2 separate regions of the Homo sapiens genome follow, and region 1 is linked to region 2. The links come from fine-mapping of genetic effects on gene expression. Tissue or cell type: whole blood. Region 2 holds a variant in brackets; the other region holds the start of a gene. All regions are shown on one strand. Distances are from middle to middle.

Region 1 (8,095 bases), 700 kb after region 2:
GGTCAGCCAGAATAACATGGAGCAAAGATACCAACTACTCTTCCAGAACCCCAAGAGGGTAGAACCCCTGCTTAATGGTTTGAGCAGGGACAGTGGAGAATGTTCTCATGAGAGGGGGTGGCCTGACTTTCGTTGCTAAGGTGGGCTGGTAACGCAGTAGGCAGGGCTGGCGAAGTAGGTTCCACCCAGGATGAAACCTGGGGTCATGAGGAACTCCCCGGGGGCTGGCCCTGCTTGCACCCTGGCGTATGTATGTAAGGCCCTGGATGAGGCCCAGCACTGCCTGCTCTCTCCTCACCCTCCACAGGCCGGAGAGTGGCCACCACTCTATATAGCCAGGCTGGAAGGCCAGGGTCCTGGCCATATGGCTCAAGCTTCCTTTGGAGAACCTTCTCTGGCCACTCTAATAGGGGGTGGGCCTCTTTCTTCTTAGGGCCAAATTAGGGCTTAAACTGAGAAAAGGAACTGCTCTGGGTCTTCCTGTAAGGCCTGATGTGACAGAAACCAGGTTCATCTGACCCAAAAGTCCAGGTGGGGGACAAGTGTACAAGGCCCCTCAGTGCCTGAGGTCAGGGGCTGCTGCTGCCTTTGGGGTAGGTAGGGAAGTGCAGCCTGCCACTGTTGCCTCCCAATATGGGCTTGGTGGGCATTGATGGTGGGTGCCCTGTGCAGGAGTGCTGAGTCTGCAGGAGTTCTCCAACATGGACCTTCGGGACTTCCACAAGTACATGAGGAGCCACAAGGCAGAGTCCAGTGAGCTGGTGCGGAACAGCCACCATACCTGGCTCTACCAGGGTGAGGGTGCCCACCACATCATGCGTGCCATCCGCCAGAGGTGAGCACCTGAAGCTGTTCTCACTGGAGCAGGGGGAGAAGACTGGGCAGGGCCTCCACAGAAGTCCTTGTCTGGGGCCAAGAGGACAGAATGGATTAACCCATTTGGGATTAAGTTCCATTTGTTAGACCAGGATTGGGACCCACTGAAAGACAGGCAATTAACAAAGGCAAATTAGCCCTCCTTGCAGGCACACAATGGGCAACTGGGGTTAGATAGAGATTGAGCACTTCTTTCTGATTAGATAAATGACCTCTTATCTTTGACCCCTTATCTGACCCCGTCACAGCAGGAAAAGGGTTTTTAAATAAACAACTTTCTTCCAGGGAGGAGGACCTCAGGACTCCCCGCCCCCTTTATTTAGTGGAAATGTCAACATTTCCACATAGCAGGTGTCTCTGTCTTTGGCATCTGAGGGAGAAGGATCATCATGAGTAACCCCCTCCTGCTCTTACAGGGCCAGTCTGAGATGGCTTAAGGGACTTCCAGGGGAGGTGGGTAGGGGCAAAGCTTGTGGCAGGCCTAGGGTCCACCTTGGCCAGCTCCTTCAGATCACCACCTTGCCTGGGGCTGCCCAGCCAAATGCCTGCTGCCCACCAGGGTGCTGCGCCTCACTCGCCTGTCGCCTGAGATCGTGGAGCTCAGCGAGCCGCTGCAGGTTGTTCGATATGGTGAGGGGGGCCACTACCATGCCCACGTGGACAGTGGGCCTGTGTACCCAGAGACCATCTGCTCCCATACCAAGCTGGTAGCCAACGAGTCTGTACCCTTCGAGACCTCCTGCCGGCAAGTATCTCCCAACTGGGGGCTGCCTTCAATCCTCAGACCAGGAACACCCATGACACAGGCACAGCCCTGCACTGTGGGCGTGCCCCTTGGCATGGGGCCAGGAGATCACTGGGTTATCCCGGTTAGTGATGCCCTCACCTCTCCCCACAAGTTGTTTACCCAATGGCTGGAAAGGGGTGGCTACTGGTCATCGTGACCACTGGAGTCAACACAGACTGATGTACCCACAGACACCAAAACTTGCCCCCTGAGTTCTGAAGCAAGGGGCAAGGCTGGGCCCCTAGCTTGTCCTGCCCATTCCTCCAGGTGTTGATCTTGATTCCACTTAGAGAAGCTGAAGCTGTGCCTCCCTCCCCTGTCAAGCCAGTTCTTTCCTCTTCAGGTGGCTGTTCTGGCCCAGCCCCTTCCCATCCCCAAGGAGCCCTTCAGCGCGCCCTGTTGCTTCTGCTAGCCTACCTTTCCCTGCCAGGCCCTTGCTCAGGGCCATGGCATTTAACTAAGTGCACCTGTGATCTTGGCCAAAAAACCATTGCAACTCACAGTAAGAGACTGGGTTTCGGGGAAGGAGGGGCTAGGGACATTTTGGCACTGGCCTGCCCTATTGTCTCCCATCCTAGTCTGTCCTGGTCCCTGGCAACAGGAACCTGGGCAGCTTATCCTGCCCACAGGTAAGCCCCTGGGAGCATCCACAACTGGGGACCTGCTCAGTGCCCCCCCTGCCTTACAGCTACATGACAGTGCTGTTTTATTTGAACAACGTCACTGGTGGGGGCGAGACTGTTTTCCCTGTAGCAGATAACAGAACCTACGATGAAATGGTAAGGGTCAACTGGGCTATTACTCTTGTGGGCTGGCAGGGGCTTAGACAAGTGAAGTACACACCTCTCCAGGTCTAAGGATGTGGGCCCAAATTATTCCTTGGGCATATCTGGTTGGTTTCCCTTTGGTCACCCTTGGCTGGCCTGGCCATAGAGTGGGGACAGGTTGAACACCCCACCACCCTGCTGCCCACAGAGTCTGATTCAGGATGACGTGGACCTCCGTGACACACGGAGGCACTGTGACAAGGGAAACCTGCGTGTCAAGCCCCAACAGGGCACAGCAGTCTTCTGGTACAACTACCTGCCTGATGGGCAAGGTGAGGGCCTATGGCCAGGCCTGGGGGGGGTGCCCTGAGTACAGCTTCCCTTTACCCAGCCCCCGTCTGCCACAATGGAGGGCTGTTTCTGGCTGCTTTCCAAATAGTTTTCTGCTCCTGGTGCCTCCCAAAGGCCATCCTTAGTGACTTTAGCAGACTGCCCCAGGACCTGTACTGCTTATTGGGTTATATCCATCCCTATCATTCCCTGATGCCCCAGCCTTCCTACTCCCTGGGGCTTGGGACACATGTCCCTTGCTAACCCAGGATGGGAAGGGATATGGACAGGCCCAACAGCAAGAAAGCTGGTTTCAGAGGGCCAGTAGTGTTGACTATACATTAGTGGGCTGAGATGAGGAGCCTCCAAGGAAGCTTTAGGTCTGGGTGTTTGCTACACAAGGAATGCATAGCTGGACCCACCTTGGTCATGCTCTTGGTGCCTATGAGGCCAAGCTCTGGCCAGCCCAGCCTAGGATCTCACGTCACCCTCCTCTTCTAGGTTGGGTGGGTGACGTAGACGACTACTCGCTGCACGGGGGCTGCCTGGTCACGCGCGGCACCAAGTGGATTGCCAACAACTGGATTAATGTGGACCCCAGCCGAGCGCGGCAAGCGCTGTTCCAACAGGAGATGGCCCGCCTTGCCCGAGAAGGGGGCACCGACTCACAGCCCGAGTGGGCTCTGGACCGGGCCTACCGCGATGCGCGCGTGGAACTCTGAGGGAAGAGTTAGCCCCGGTTCCCAGCCGCGGGTCGCCAGTTGCCCAAGATCAGGGGTCCGGCTGTCCTTCTGTCCTGCTGCAGACTAAAGGTCTGGCCAATGTCTTGCCCCACCCCGCCAGCCGCGATACGGCGCAGTTCCTATATTCATGTTATTTATTGTGTACTGACTCCATCTGCCCCGTCAAATAAAAAACCACAAGGTTCGAGCCGCCGGGCCCGACAAACTCCGGGTCGGCGAAACAGAGTCCGCGATAGGTGCAGCGGGCTGGCAGCTGGGAGCGCCCCGCAAGCGTCACGTGAGGGGGCGAGGGGCGGGATGCCCCTCCGCGGGCCCCGCCAATGATGAGCTGGATTGCGTGGGACGAAGGGTCGTCATTGGACAACCGCCGCGGGCGCCCTGGTCTCTGCTACCTGTAGCTGAGGGCGCTGTTGATGGGCAGCGCGGCGCGCTGGGAAGGCTCGTTCTCGCGAGAGTTCAGCTCCCTTCTTAGCCGTGGCTGCCTCAGCACCTCGAGGATCGACATGGACGCTCTCGAGGACTACGTTTGGCCGCGGGCAACCTCGGAGCTTATACTCCTCCCAGTGACGGGTCTGGAGTGCGTGGGGGACCGGCTGTTGGCGGGTGAGGCTTGGCTTGAGGCACGCCTGGTGGAAAGGGGGAAAGAAACAGCGCCTCCCAGGGGCGGTGCCACAGGGACAAAAGGGGTGCCCTGAGGAGAAGGACGGGCAGCAGGTTGAGGCCGATCGGAGGTGGGAAGGGAGCCCCGGAGATGGCGGGGACGAGGGCCAACCTGAAGAGGGCGGGGCCCGAGAGACAAAGCTGATGTGGCCGCCGCGGCGCTTCATAAACTTCAGCCCGCGTGGAAAGGGCGGGTGGAACCGCGGGAGGGTGCAGGGGAACGCGGCCGCGCGGAGGCGGAGGCGGAGGCCCGGGAGCTGAGGGTTGAGGGGGTGTGCTCCCTTCTAGGAGATGGGCGGGGGCTTGGCCTCTCCGAAGGAGACGGGGCCGAGCTGGGGGGGGCGGAGGGAGGAGGAGGAGGAGGAGGCGGAGGCGGCCCCGGCCCCTCAGGGGGTGTGGCCTCTTGGGGAAGGCGGGGCCGGGAGAGGGCAAGGGTGTGGCCTCTCGAGGGCGGGATGAGTCTCTTCCCCCTAAGGTGGGGGTGAAGATCCTCTGAGGAGGGTGGCGTCGCGGAAAACGGCGGATAAGACCTTTCCGAGTAGGGGGCGGTGCCCGGGGAAGCAGGGGCTGAGACCCCCTCCTGAGATGGTTGAGGTCCAGGAAATCAGGTGTGGAGGTCCCTCCAAGGAGAACCGGGTCGCAAAGGACAGGCGAGGCCTGGGACCTGAGGTGTCAGAGTCCAGGCTGGTCTCGAACAGTCATTACATGAAGCCACTAATGACCCATGTTGGTGCTGCTGAGTTGTATAAGGGTCCTGAGGCAGGGCCTTGGCGGTCAGGCCTTGAGTGAGTTGCCACCAGTCCTAAGAGGGTGTGTGTATGGGGTGGGGATGATCCAGTTTTGATCTGGTGTGGGGGTTCTTGGAGCGCGGAGTTCCTACCGCGAGCTAAACTCCTAAGGCTCCTTGAGGGGGAACAACGAAGCAGAAACTCAAAGAACCACAAGAGTGAACTAGGAAAAGGGGTGAGTTCCTGGCAAGAGGGTAAGCATGCCAAAGGCCTTGAGGCTGGAAGAATCTGTCATTTTGGGGGAAGGAGGGAATTCTTGTGAAGTTAGAGCAGGAATGGAGTCTGGGAGGAAAGGAAGCTGGACAAGCGAGCAGAGGCCACATTGTTTCAGGCCTTGATCTGACTTTATCCCTAAGGGCAGTGGGGAGAACCTATTGAAGGGTTTTAAGGTGGGGAATAACTTGGGAAATGCAGTTTAAGAAGCTCTGCAAGTGAATTCACCTACTTCTGTGGCTTCCAAAGTGACTTTTATATAGCTACAATTCTGTGTGTGTGTGTTTTTTGTTTGTTTGTTTGTTTGTTTTTGAGACAGTCTTCCTCTGTCACCCAGGCTGGAGTGCAGTGGCACGGTCTCGGCTCCCTGCAACCTCCGCCTCCCAGGTTCAAGTGATTCTCCTGCCTCAGCCTCCGGAGTAGCTGGGATTACAGGTGCCCACCACCATGCCCAGCTAATTGTTGTATTTTTAGTAGAGATGGGGCCTCACCATGTTGGCCAGGCTGGTCTCAAACTCCTGACCTCAAGTGATTCGCCTGCCTCAGCCCCCCAAATTGCTGGAATTATAGGCATGAGCCACCATACCCGGCCTCTCTAGCCTCTTCCTGAGCTCTTCATTTCCTGTTCCATCCACCATACTCAATGCTCTTGCCCATCTCAGGGCAATCATACATGCTGTTTTCTCCACCAAGAAAGCTGCAAACCCTCCCATTGCTCCCCACCCCCCCCCCCCCGCCCCAACATTTCCCAGTCCCCCTCTTCCGCCTCCTTTCCTCTGGCTAACTGCTGCTTATCCTTGAATCCTAACTCTAAATATTGTGTCCTCAAGTTGGCCTCCCCTTACACTCACCCAGTCTTGTTAGATTAGACCAGGGTTTTCTCAATCTTGCCTCGATTGACCTTTTAGACCAGATAATTCTTTGTTGGAATGCTGTTTGTGCATTGTAGGATGTTTAGCATCATCCCTGGCCTTACTTGCCAGTAGCACAACCCCTGGAGACAGCCGTACGTGTCTCCAGCTATTGCTAGATGTCTCCTGTGGGGAAAGTTGCCCCCTGTGGAGAACCACTGGATTAGACTTTCTCATTTTACATCTTTTATTTTCTTTTTGCATTGTCAAAATCCTTCTCATTTTATTTTACTTTTTTTTTTTTTGAGACAGAGTCTTGCTCTATTGCTCAGGGTGGAGTGCAGTGGTGCAATCTCAGGTCACTGCAACTTCCACCTCTTGGGCTCAAGAGATCCTCTCACCTCAGCCTCCCAAGTAGCTGGGACTACAGGCATGCGCCATTATGCCCAGCTCATTTGTATAATTTTTTTAGAGGTGGAGTTTTGCCCTGTTGCCCAGGCTGGTCTCAAACTCCTGGGCTTAAGCGAGCCTCCTGCCTTCCAAAGTGCTGGGATTATCGGTGTGAGCCACTGTGCCAGGCCCCATCTCTATTTTTTTTTTAATTAAAAAAAAAAAGTGAGGTGAGGAGGAGGCTCTGAGTTTGAGAAATTTGTGGTTGAAGTGAACATCAAGCGTGACTGATGAGGCTGGGCGCGGTGGCTCACGCCTGTATTCCCAGCACTTTGGGAGGCCGAGGTGGGCGGATCATGAGGTCAGGAGATCGAGACCATCCTGGCTAACACAGTGAAACCCCGTCTCTACTAAAAATACAAAAAATTAGCCGGGCATGGTGGCGGATGCCTGTAGTCCCAGCTACTTGGGAGGCTGAGGCAGGAGGATGGCGTAAACCTGGGAGGCAGAGCTTGTAGTGAGCCAAGATCGCGCCACAGCACTCCAGCTTGGGCGGCAGAGTGAGACTTTGTCTCAAAAAAAAAAAAGAGTGACTGATGAGGGGGCCGGGCACAATGGCTCACGCCTGTAATCCCGGCACTTTGGGAGGCCAAGGTGGGTGGATCACCGCAGGTCAGGAGTTCGAGACCAGCGTGGCCAACATGGTGAAACCCTGTCTCTACTAAAAATATAAAAACTGGTCGGGCTTGGTGGCTCACGCCTATAATCCCAGCACTTTGGGAGGCTGAGGCGGGCAGATCACGAGGTCAGGAGATCGAGATCATCCTGGCTAACACGGTGAAACCCTGTCTCTATTAAAAATACAAAAAATTAGCCGGGCATGGGGGCAGGCCCCTGTAGTCCCAGCTACTCGGGAGGCTGAGGCAGGAGAATGGCCTGAACCCGGGAGGTGGAACTTGCAGTGAGCTGAGATCGTGCCACTGCACTCCAGCCTGGGCTACAGAGCAAGACTCCGTCTCAAAAAAAAAAAAAAAAAACTAGCCAGGTGTGGTGGTGGGCGCCTGTAATTCCAGCTACTTGGGAGGCTGAGGCAGGAGAGTTGCTTGAACCCAGGAGATGGAGGTTGCAGTGAGCTGCACGGTGCCACTGCACTCCAGCCTCAGCGACAGAATGAGACTCTGTCTCAAAAAAAAAAAGAATGACTGATGAGGGAAGCACAAAGTCAGCACTGAAAGTCCAGCTGAAGCTGAGACCAAGGATTTTCTTTTTTCTTTTTTTTTTTTTGAGTCTTTCGCCCAGGCTGGAGTGAAGTGGTATGATCTTGGCTCACTGCAACCTCCACCCGCTGGGTTCAAGCGATTCTCCTGCCTCAGCCTCCTGAGTAGCTGGGATTACAGGCACGTGCCACCACACCTGGCTAATTTTTTAGTAGAGATGGGGTTTTCACCTTGTTGGCCAGGCTAGTCCTGAACCCCTGACCTCAGGTGATTCATCCGCCTGGGCTTCCCAAAGTGCTAGGATTACAGGCGTGAGCCACCGTGCCTGGCCGAGACCAAGGATTTTCTTTTTTTTTTTTTTCTTTTGAGACAGAGTCTGGCTTTGGCTTTCCAAAGTGCCCAGATTACAGGCGTGAGCCACCGCACCCGGCCGAGACCAAGGATTTTCTAAGATTCAAGCTGCAGGATTGTGT
Region 2 (8,104 bases):
GCAGCAATAAGAAGCCACTTCCCAATAGTTTCCTGATACCCAGTCACCTTTGGGAACTTACGAGGAAAGTTTTTCCAGTCTCTCCGCAGACCCTTGCATCTCTTCTCTTTTTGTTTAGACCCTTGACCACCACCCCCTATTCTAATCTTAACTCCTCTGCTACTCAGTTCCAATCCTAACCCAAGCCCTAGTCCCTAAATTTATAATCCTTTAATCCTAGACCTGGTCTCTAGATCCTGAGCCCTTGATGCTTATCTTCTAACCTCCTAATCCCAACCTCAAATCCCTAAACCTCAACCCATGAATTCTGACCTGATTCTCAAACCCCAGGCCCCCAACCCTGACTCCAAAAATGACAACCCATTACTTCTCCCTACACGGAATCACTGACGGAGTTGTAGCAACTGAATCTGCAGTAGGCCAAAGGACCCAGTGAGTTAGCCAGCAAACTACTCTAAATAAAAGATATGGTGGATAACAGCAAGCCTAAACAAATCTTCCTCAAAGATGAGCAACACAAGTCCCAGTCATTATGACAATACCTCTGTATCTCAACAAAGGGGCTTAAATCAGCAAGTCATCCCAGCCCCTGAAGGAAGAGAACAGTCCTTGTAAGTTGCAAAGCTCTCAGAGGACATGGGTGGCTCAGTAAAGCCCCTGTTCTAGGACACAGCAAAAGAAGCAACACAATAACCACCATGGCCCAGCAGATGAGGGCCACAGCCAGCATCGCCACCCCTGAGTCTGCCTTCCCAGTATGATCATCAGGACTTCAGAAGTCCCAGCAAACCAGTTAAACAGAAGACAAGAACCTTATGTGAAACCAAATTCCAGACAACTGATACAGATGGCATTCCAGAATCTGCAGCATTCCAGCATGCAACAAACTGCAATAAGTGACACAGATCTCTCCCCGACAGACACCTTATGAGAAGCAAGGGGAAAAAAATGCTCCAATAAAATGGAATCCCAGAATCTCTTCACCATCCCACCCTCAAACCCCTCCCCATTGCCAGGATGCTATGGCATAAGAGGCAAAGGACAATTCACAGTAGTAATAAAAAACATTTACTAAACACTTAGAAACAGTACTGACCAGGTGCCTCATTCAATGCTACGCTTATGTGAATTCTGTATGTATACTGTACTTAGATACAATTTTTTAAAAATTGATACTGCTAAAGCCTTGCTTAGATGGAAATTTGTAGCCTAAAATACATATATTAGAAAAGAAGAAAGACTGGAAATTCAGTAAGCCTCCATCTCAACAAGTTAGAAAAAGAGGAACAGAGCCTCAGAAACCTGTGACACATCATCAAGCGTATAATTTGTTATTATTATTTATTATTATTATTTTGAGACAGAGTCTCGCTCTGTTGCCCAGGCTGGAGTGCAATGGCGTGATCTTGGCTCACTGCAACCTCTGCCTCCCGGGTTCAAGCGATTCTCCTGCTTCAGCCTCCTAAGTAGCTGGGATTACAGGCACCTGCCACCACGCCTGGCTGATTTTTGTATTTTCAGTAGAGATGGGGTTTCACCATGCTGGCCAGGCTGGTCTTGAACTCCTGACCTCAGGCGATGGATCGCCCGCCTCGGCCTCCCAAAGTGCTGGAATTACAGGCATGAGCCACTGCGCCTGGCTGTTATTATTTATTATTAACTATTGCTTTATGCAATTGTCTTTTAAATCATATAGGAGAATAAAAGATTTACAAACAAAACCATATATTTATACTGTCTTTAACTGTGTAGTTACCTCTACCAGTTCTCTTTATTTCCCCTTGTGGATTTAAGTGTCCTTTCGCTTCAGCCTAAAGTATTCCCTTTAGTATTTCCTGCAGGGTGGATCTGCTGGAGACAAATTATTTCGGTTTTTATTAGTTTTGTTGGTCATCTTACTTTCTCCTTCATTTCTTTTTTTTTCTTTTCTTTTCTTTTTTTCTTTTTTTTTTTTTTTGAGATGGAGTTTTGCTCTTGTTGCCCACACTGGAGTGCAATGGTGCAATCTTGGCTCACTGCAACCTCTGCGTCCTAGGTTCAAGCAATTCTCCTGCCTCAGCCTCCCAAGCAGCTGGGATTACAGGCATGCAACACCACACTCAGCTAATTTTGTAATTATATTTAGTAGAGAGGGTTTCACTGTGTTGGCCAGGCTGGTCTTGAACTTCTGACCTCAGATGATCCACCCGCCTCAGCCTCCCTAAGTGCTGGGATTACAGGAGTGAGTCACCACTCTTCTTCATTTCTGAAGGATTTTCTTTATGGATATAGAATTCTTGGCTGATGTTTTTTTTCTGTTAGCACTTTGAATATGTTATCCTACTGCTTTCTGGCCTCCATGATTTCTGACGAGAAACTAGATGTTAATCTTACTGAGGGTCATCTGTACTTAATGATTTGCTTCTCTTTTGCTGCTTTCAAAATTCTCTCTTGGTCTTTGGCTTTTGACAGAGATTATGATGTGTATAGGTGTGGATTTCTTTGAGTTTGTCCTACTTGGAGTTTGCTGAGTTGCTTGGATGCATATGTTAACATTCTTTGAAAAATTTGAGATATTTTCAGTCATTATTTCTTCAAATATCTTTCTGCCCTTTTCTTTCTTCCTTCTCCTTCCTGGACTACCATTATCTTTATGTTGTTATGCTTAATTATATCCCAAAGGCTTCCAGGGCTCTGTTCCTTTTTCTTTCTGCTCCTCGCACTGGTTAATGTCAATCTTTCTTCAAGTTCACTTGTTCTTTCTTCTACCTGTTCAACTTTGCTATTGAGCCTCTCTAGTGAATTTGTCACTTTAGTTATTGTACTTATCACCTCAAGAAAGTTATATTTAAAAAAATAATTTCTTTATGATGTTCTCTACTTGTTCACACATCATTCTTATACTTTATTTCTTTAGACATAGTTTATCTCTTTGAAAAAATATGTATACATGTATGTATGTGTATTTTTTTTTAATAAGGCCTCGCTGTTACCCAGGCTAGAATGCAGTGGCACAATCATAGCTCATTGTAGCCTAAACCTCCTGGGCTCAAGCAATCAATCCTCCCACCTCAGCTTCCCAAGTAGCTAGGACTACAGGCACGTGCCAGCATGCCTGATAATTTTTAATTTTTTTGTAGAGATAGGACAACTATGTTGTCCAGGCTGGTCTTGAATTCCTGGCCTCAAGTGATCCTTTCACCTCAGGCCCCCAAAGTGTTGGGATTATAGCCATGAGTCACCTGCCTGGGCTGATTTAAAGTCTTTGTCTAGTAAGTCCAACATTGGAGCTTTCTTGGCAACAATTCCTATTGACTGATCTTTTTTTCTTGTGTATGGGCCAGACTTTCTTGTTTCTTTGTATGTGTCACAATATTTCATTGAAAATTGGATGTTTTAAACAACATAATGTGGCAACTTTGGAAATCAGATTCTCCCCTTCCCCCAGGTTTGTTGTTGCTATTCATTTGTGTAGTGATTTTTATCAATTAATTTTTTAAAGTATGTATTCTTGGTAGTGTGTAACCATTGAAGACTCTGTTCCATTAGTTTAGTGGTCATCTAATGATTGGACATAGTGTTTTTAAATACTTGGAACCAATAAGTCTTTCTGCCTTTGCCGAGGTATTCTGTATGTATTGAGCCATGCCTTCAATGGTCAGGCAGGCAGTTTACAACTCTGCTTTAGACTTCATTTCTTGCTATTTAGAGCATTAAAGTCAGCCAAGGTGAGCACATAGGGCCTTCTAAAGATTCTCCTGGACATATTACAGACCTGCTCATGCTCTTGGTCTTCTAGATTCCTAGAAATATGCCAGAGCTTTTCAAAAGCTCCATGGACATTCTATTCTCAGCTTTTTCTTTTACTTTTTTTTTGTTGTTGTTATTTGTTTGTCCCAAATGTTATCACTGCTTAAGGTTGTTGCAAATTTTAAAAATTGAGGCTGTTTGTTTTTGACAGATGCCCCAGGGAAAAAGTTCTCAGTGAGAGAACTCTCAGTCAGGTTAAAACAAAACAAAAAACAAAACAAAAAGCCAAAAAGCAACCCAGCTGGAGGAGGTCTCTAGGGAACTGCCAGGCAAATCAAATAACGATCATTTTCTGGAAATGGTGTTTTTGGGGACCTCCAAACCTGTTCTTCCCCTTTGAATGTCTTTTCGCAGGCTGGTTTCCACCATGATTTCAAGGCTGGTTTAATTTAAGCCTACAGCAGAGTTGGGGTAGGGAGAATGGGTACAGGGCAAGTTAAAAACACCAGAAAGCTTGCTTTTCTTACTAAGATTTTAGATTTTTGTGGTCATTTGCTTACAATCTGTGTAAGAACAGAG[G/A]GAACCCATGGCATGAGTCAAGTAGTTTGGGGATGAGAAAATAGAATATCTGATATTTTTTAAAGATTCTTATTAATCAAGAGAAATGTTTGCCAGCCAGGTTTTCTGCTAAGAATCATTTATTGAAGACATAAATCAACGAGTTTGATCCAACCATTAGTAATTAAAGGGGATATATTTGAAGAGGCAACCATTGTGTTTCACTTGGCAATCTGGAGATTCAGTAGGTTTTATAATTCTTTGTCGTACGTTCAAGAGTTTTCCTGCAAGAGAAGTATCTGCTTAGAGAAATCAAATTTGAGGAAGTTAAGAGAAAAGCCACCACACTGGTAAACACAACCATAGTTCAGCAGGGGAAATGCTAAACAATTATTCTCTGAATTAAGGCAGGTTAGAGACATTCTAATTTCACTGGAGAAGGAAAAAGCAGAGTGAAAGTCGGTGGAAAAGAGGCAAAGGATGGGGATGTCTGGGTGAGACTTTGGACTCCAGGAGAGCCTCTGGGAACTCCTGAGGGGATAGAGGCAGTGGAGTTGACATGAAGCAGGGTCCTGGCAGAGGCCTGTTGGAGGATATGGAGCTTTCCATCTCCCTAAGAGTGTCTCAGGTTTCCCCTTCCCCTCTTTTCCCTTTCCTTTCCCTTCTCTTTCCCCTTCCTTCCTTCCTTCTTTCCTTCCTTCCTTTCCTCCCTTCCTTCTTCCACTTCCTCTTCCTCCCTATCCCTCTTCTTTCTCCATTTTCATGTCTTCTTTTCTTCTTTCTCTTCCTACTCTCTCTCTCTCCCTCCCTATCTGCCCCCCACCCCCCCACCTCTTCTGGAATTATTAGTTTCCTCAAACTCCAATTGATTCTCTAAGGACTGATTTAGGGGAAGGTGCCAATAGCTCATTGTAGTTCATCATTATGGTTGGCTCTTAATGCAATTATATACTCATATATATGAGTACATATCTTTATTAAGCCTATATCTCATTTGAGTTCATTCAAGTGTACATCTCATTTGAGTTTCATGATAACCCAGACAGATGAGTTCTAGCTGAGTCACAGAGGTATTAACTGAAAGATTTGTGACTTTTTCTTCAACGCTCTTCCCCAGACATCACATTCTGTACTTGGGATACCTGGGCTTACTACCTATACATAAGAATAACTAAAGCTGTCAGTGGTACTAGCTCTAGATCACTGAGTTTGTGCAATGAATTCTGACTTCAGTCTGCATTCTTTTTTTTTTTTTTTTTTTTTTTTTTTTTTGAGACGGAGTCTCACTCTGGCGCCCAGGCTGGAGTGCAGTGGCGTGATCTTGGCTTACTGCAAGCTCCACCTCCCGGGTTCATGCCATTCACCTGCCTCAGCCTCCCAAGTAGCTGGGACTACAGGCGCCCGCCACCAAGACTGGCTAATTTTTTTTGTATTTTTAGTAGAGATGGGTTTCACCGTGTTAGCCAGGATGGTCTCGATCTCCTGACCTTGTGATCCGCCTGCCTTGGCCTCCCAAAGTGCTGGGATTACAGGCATGAGCCACCGTGCCTGGCCCAGTCTGCATTCTTAATCTCTGCAAATCCTTGGCATCCAAGCTTTCTGAATTACTTTATAAAAGCAATATTAATTATATCAACAATTTCATCAGAGCCTTGGTAGAGAGACAGAATTGTGCTCTGCAGTAAAATTTTCAGGTGGTCTCCTATAGTTAACTTTTCATCCATGGCACAATTAATGTTTACATTTGAAATAAATGAATAAAATGCATTTTTGTCTTAAATAGACTGTTGAGGTCCCAACATGATACAGGGATCTCCCCTAGAAGATTTGGGATTTTCTAGTCCAAATGTGATGAAAGGAAGCTCACTGTATTTGGATGCCGCACAATTCTTTTCTGGATCGCTCTGATTTAGGGAAAATTCTATCATTTTATACTGATGTGATATCTTCCTTACCAATCCCTCTTTCTGCATGTCCCTAAAACTCTTCTCCCCTGTTAAATATTAGTCTTTACTTTGGCACATAAGTGATTCTTAGAACACTTTGAACACCATTCTATAGATATCCTTAAATTTAAAACCACCCCTTTGAAGTTAAAAGTTTAAAATGGATATAAGACCAGAGATTTATTTGACAAGAGTCATAGACTGAGGTACGGTCCAGATATAAAAGGAGGGATTTAGCAGGATTTTTAATGAGTAAGCCCAGCTCAGCAAGAATCTGACAGAAGTAGAAATTATGTGAGATCTTTTCATAGTTACCCCAAATCATGAAAGTGTCTAAAAGTTCTTGTGATTTCTCTTTAGTGGAACTAGAGAACATTCAGGTAATTGACCGTCCCTAAGTGAGTAATATGTGTGCTGGTCTGTAAATCAGATGAGCCCTGTGAGTTTGTCATGGAGATGGTGTCAGAAGACATTGTCATAAAATTATTACTAAATTATACAATTGTCCTGTTTTACCTGCTTTACCTCCTACTGTCTTTATTTTCTCTTCTACATTGATTTCTCCCAGTCTTGTTGCCACGCCTCATAATGCAATAATGATCTCTATGGCTTCAGCTGAGTTCTTGCTTTGGACTATAACCTGGAAGTCAGGGACACAATCTCTAGACCTAGGGCTCCGGCAAGTCCTGGCCCATTCACTCTCAGAATAACTGTTCACATTTCAATTAGTGTCTTTCATTAATATCCTAGATATTGGAAATGACAGGGAAGAGCAAGGGTGAAATAGATGTTCTTTAAGCTGAATTATCAGGCCAAATTATGTTTCTTCCTCCAGAAGGTGTTATTTTTGGTTGGGGAGATTTGAATATGAAGTATGTATTAGAAGATGACAATGAAATAATTAGTTGTAATAAGACCTTCTGAGTATGTAAGGAAATGTCCAAACTTATTAGAGAGGAACTCTGAAGTATGTAGGAGTGAATAACATGATGTCTGAGACCTGTTTTAATATACTTCATCAAAGAAAACAGAGAAATAAAAGAATAGAGGGAGGAAATGTGGCAAAACATTACAATTTATTGAATACACATGATAGGCTTATGGGATCTATTATTGGCTCTACTTTTATGTATGTTTGAAAATGTTCATAACAAAACATTTAAAACCCTCTAAAACAGTGAGCTCTTAACTTATCTAGTTTACTTCTAAAAATAAAAAATAAAAGTGTCTTTACTTACACATTGTCCATCATACAGTTTAGTTATGTTAAGCCCTTCAAATCTGAAAGAAATTATATTTTAAAATTATTTTTGCTGTATGGTATATCATAAATTCTGACTAAATTTTACTTGATAATCTTTGGCTAAGTTTGGGAAATAAACATTCTGCTAATAATGAATTCTTGGCAAATATTTAAAAATTCTACTATATGAATTTTTATTTGTCAAAGACATTGAGTATAGAAAACATACTCAGTCTACAATAAAATACAGAAATTCAAAATAGCCTTTGAAAATTCAAGTAGAAATACAGAGGATTAGAAAAAGAATGTGTCTTAAAGTTAAAATATGCATTTAATGAAAGCTGAAACATCGCTACTGACCTTACAGAAACAAAGGATTAAAAGAGAATACTATGAACAATTGTATGTCAATAGATTAGATATTCTGGATGAAATGAACAAATTCCTAGAAACACACAAATTATCAAAACTTAATAAGAAATAAAAAGTCTCAACAGACCTATGACAAGTAAAGATACTGAATCAGTAATAAAAAATGTCCCGACAAACACCAGATGGCTTTAGTACTGAATTCTACCAAAAAAAAAATTTTTTTTTTTTTTTTTTGAGACAGAGTTTTGCTCTTGTT

The links. PIP is the estimated chance that this variant, and not a neighbour inherited with it, causes the effect.
Region 1: it holds the start of WDR6, and the variant in region 2 is fine-mapped to the expression of WDR6 in whole blood (INTERVAL, PIP above 0.99).

The regions. Positions count from the first base shown.
Region 1 is chr3:49,003,426-49,011,520 of GRCh38, forward strand. It overlaps WDR6 (WD repeat domain 6), which reads left to right and starts at 3,966. Exons shown (of 6, transcript NM_018031.6): 1 at 3,966-4,106. The coding sequence starts at 4,007. P4HTM (prolyl 4-hydroxylase, transmembrane) reads left to right here. Exons shown (of 9, transcript NM_177939.3): 5 at 673-835; 6 at 1,436-1,621; 7 at 2,352-2,442; 8 at 2,639-2,762; 9 at 3,262-3,728. The coding sequence ends at 3,482. RefSeq lists an enhancer at 2,744-3,732 and silencers at 3,871-3,920, 4,461-4,640.
Region 2 is chr3:48,302,433-48,310,536 of GRCh38, forward strand. It overlaps SPINK8 (serine peptidase inhibitor Kazal type 8 (putative)), which reads right to left. Exons shown (of 8, transcript NM_001080525.3): 7 at 7,472-7,514; 8 at 4,410-4,571. The coding sequence ends at 4,560. Among named protein-coding and RNA genes, the nearest start is that of NME6, 5.1 kb to the left of the region's middle. The variant G/A (reference allele first, on the strand shown) is at 4,309.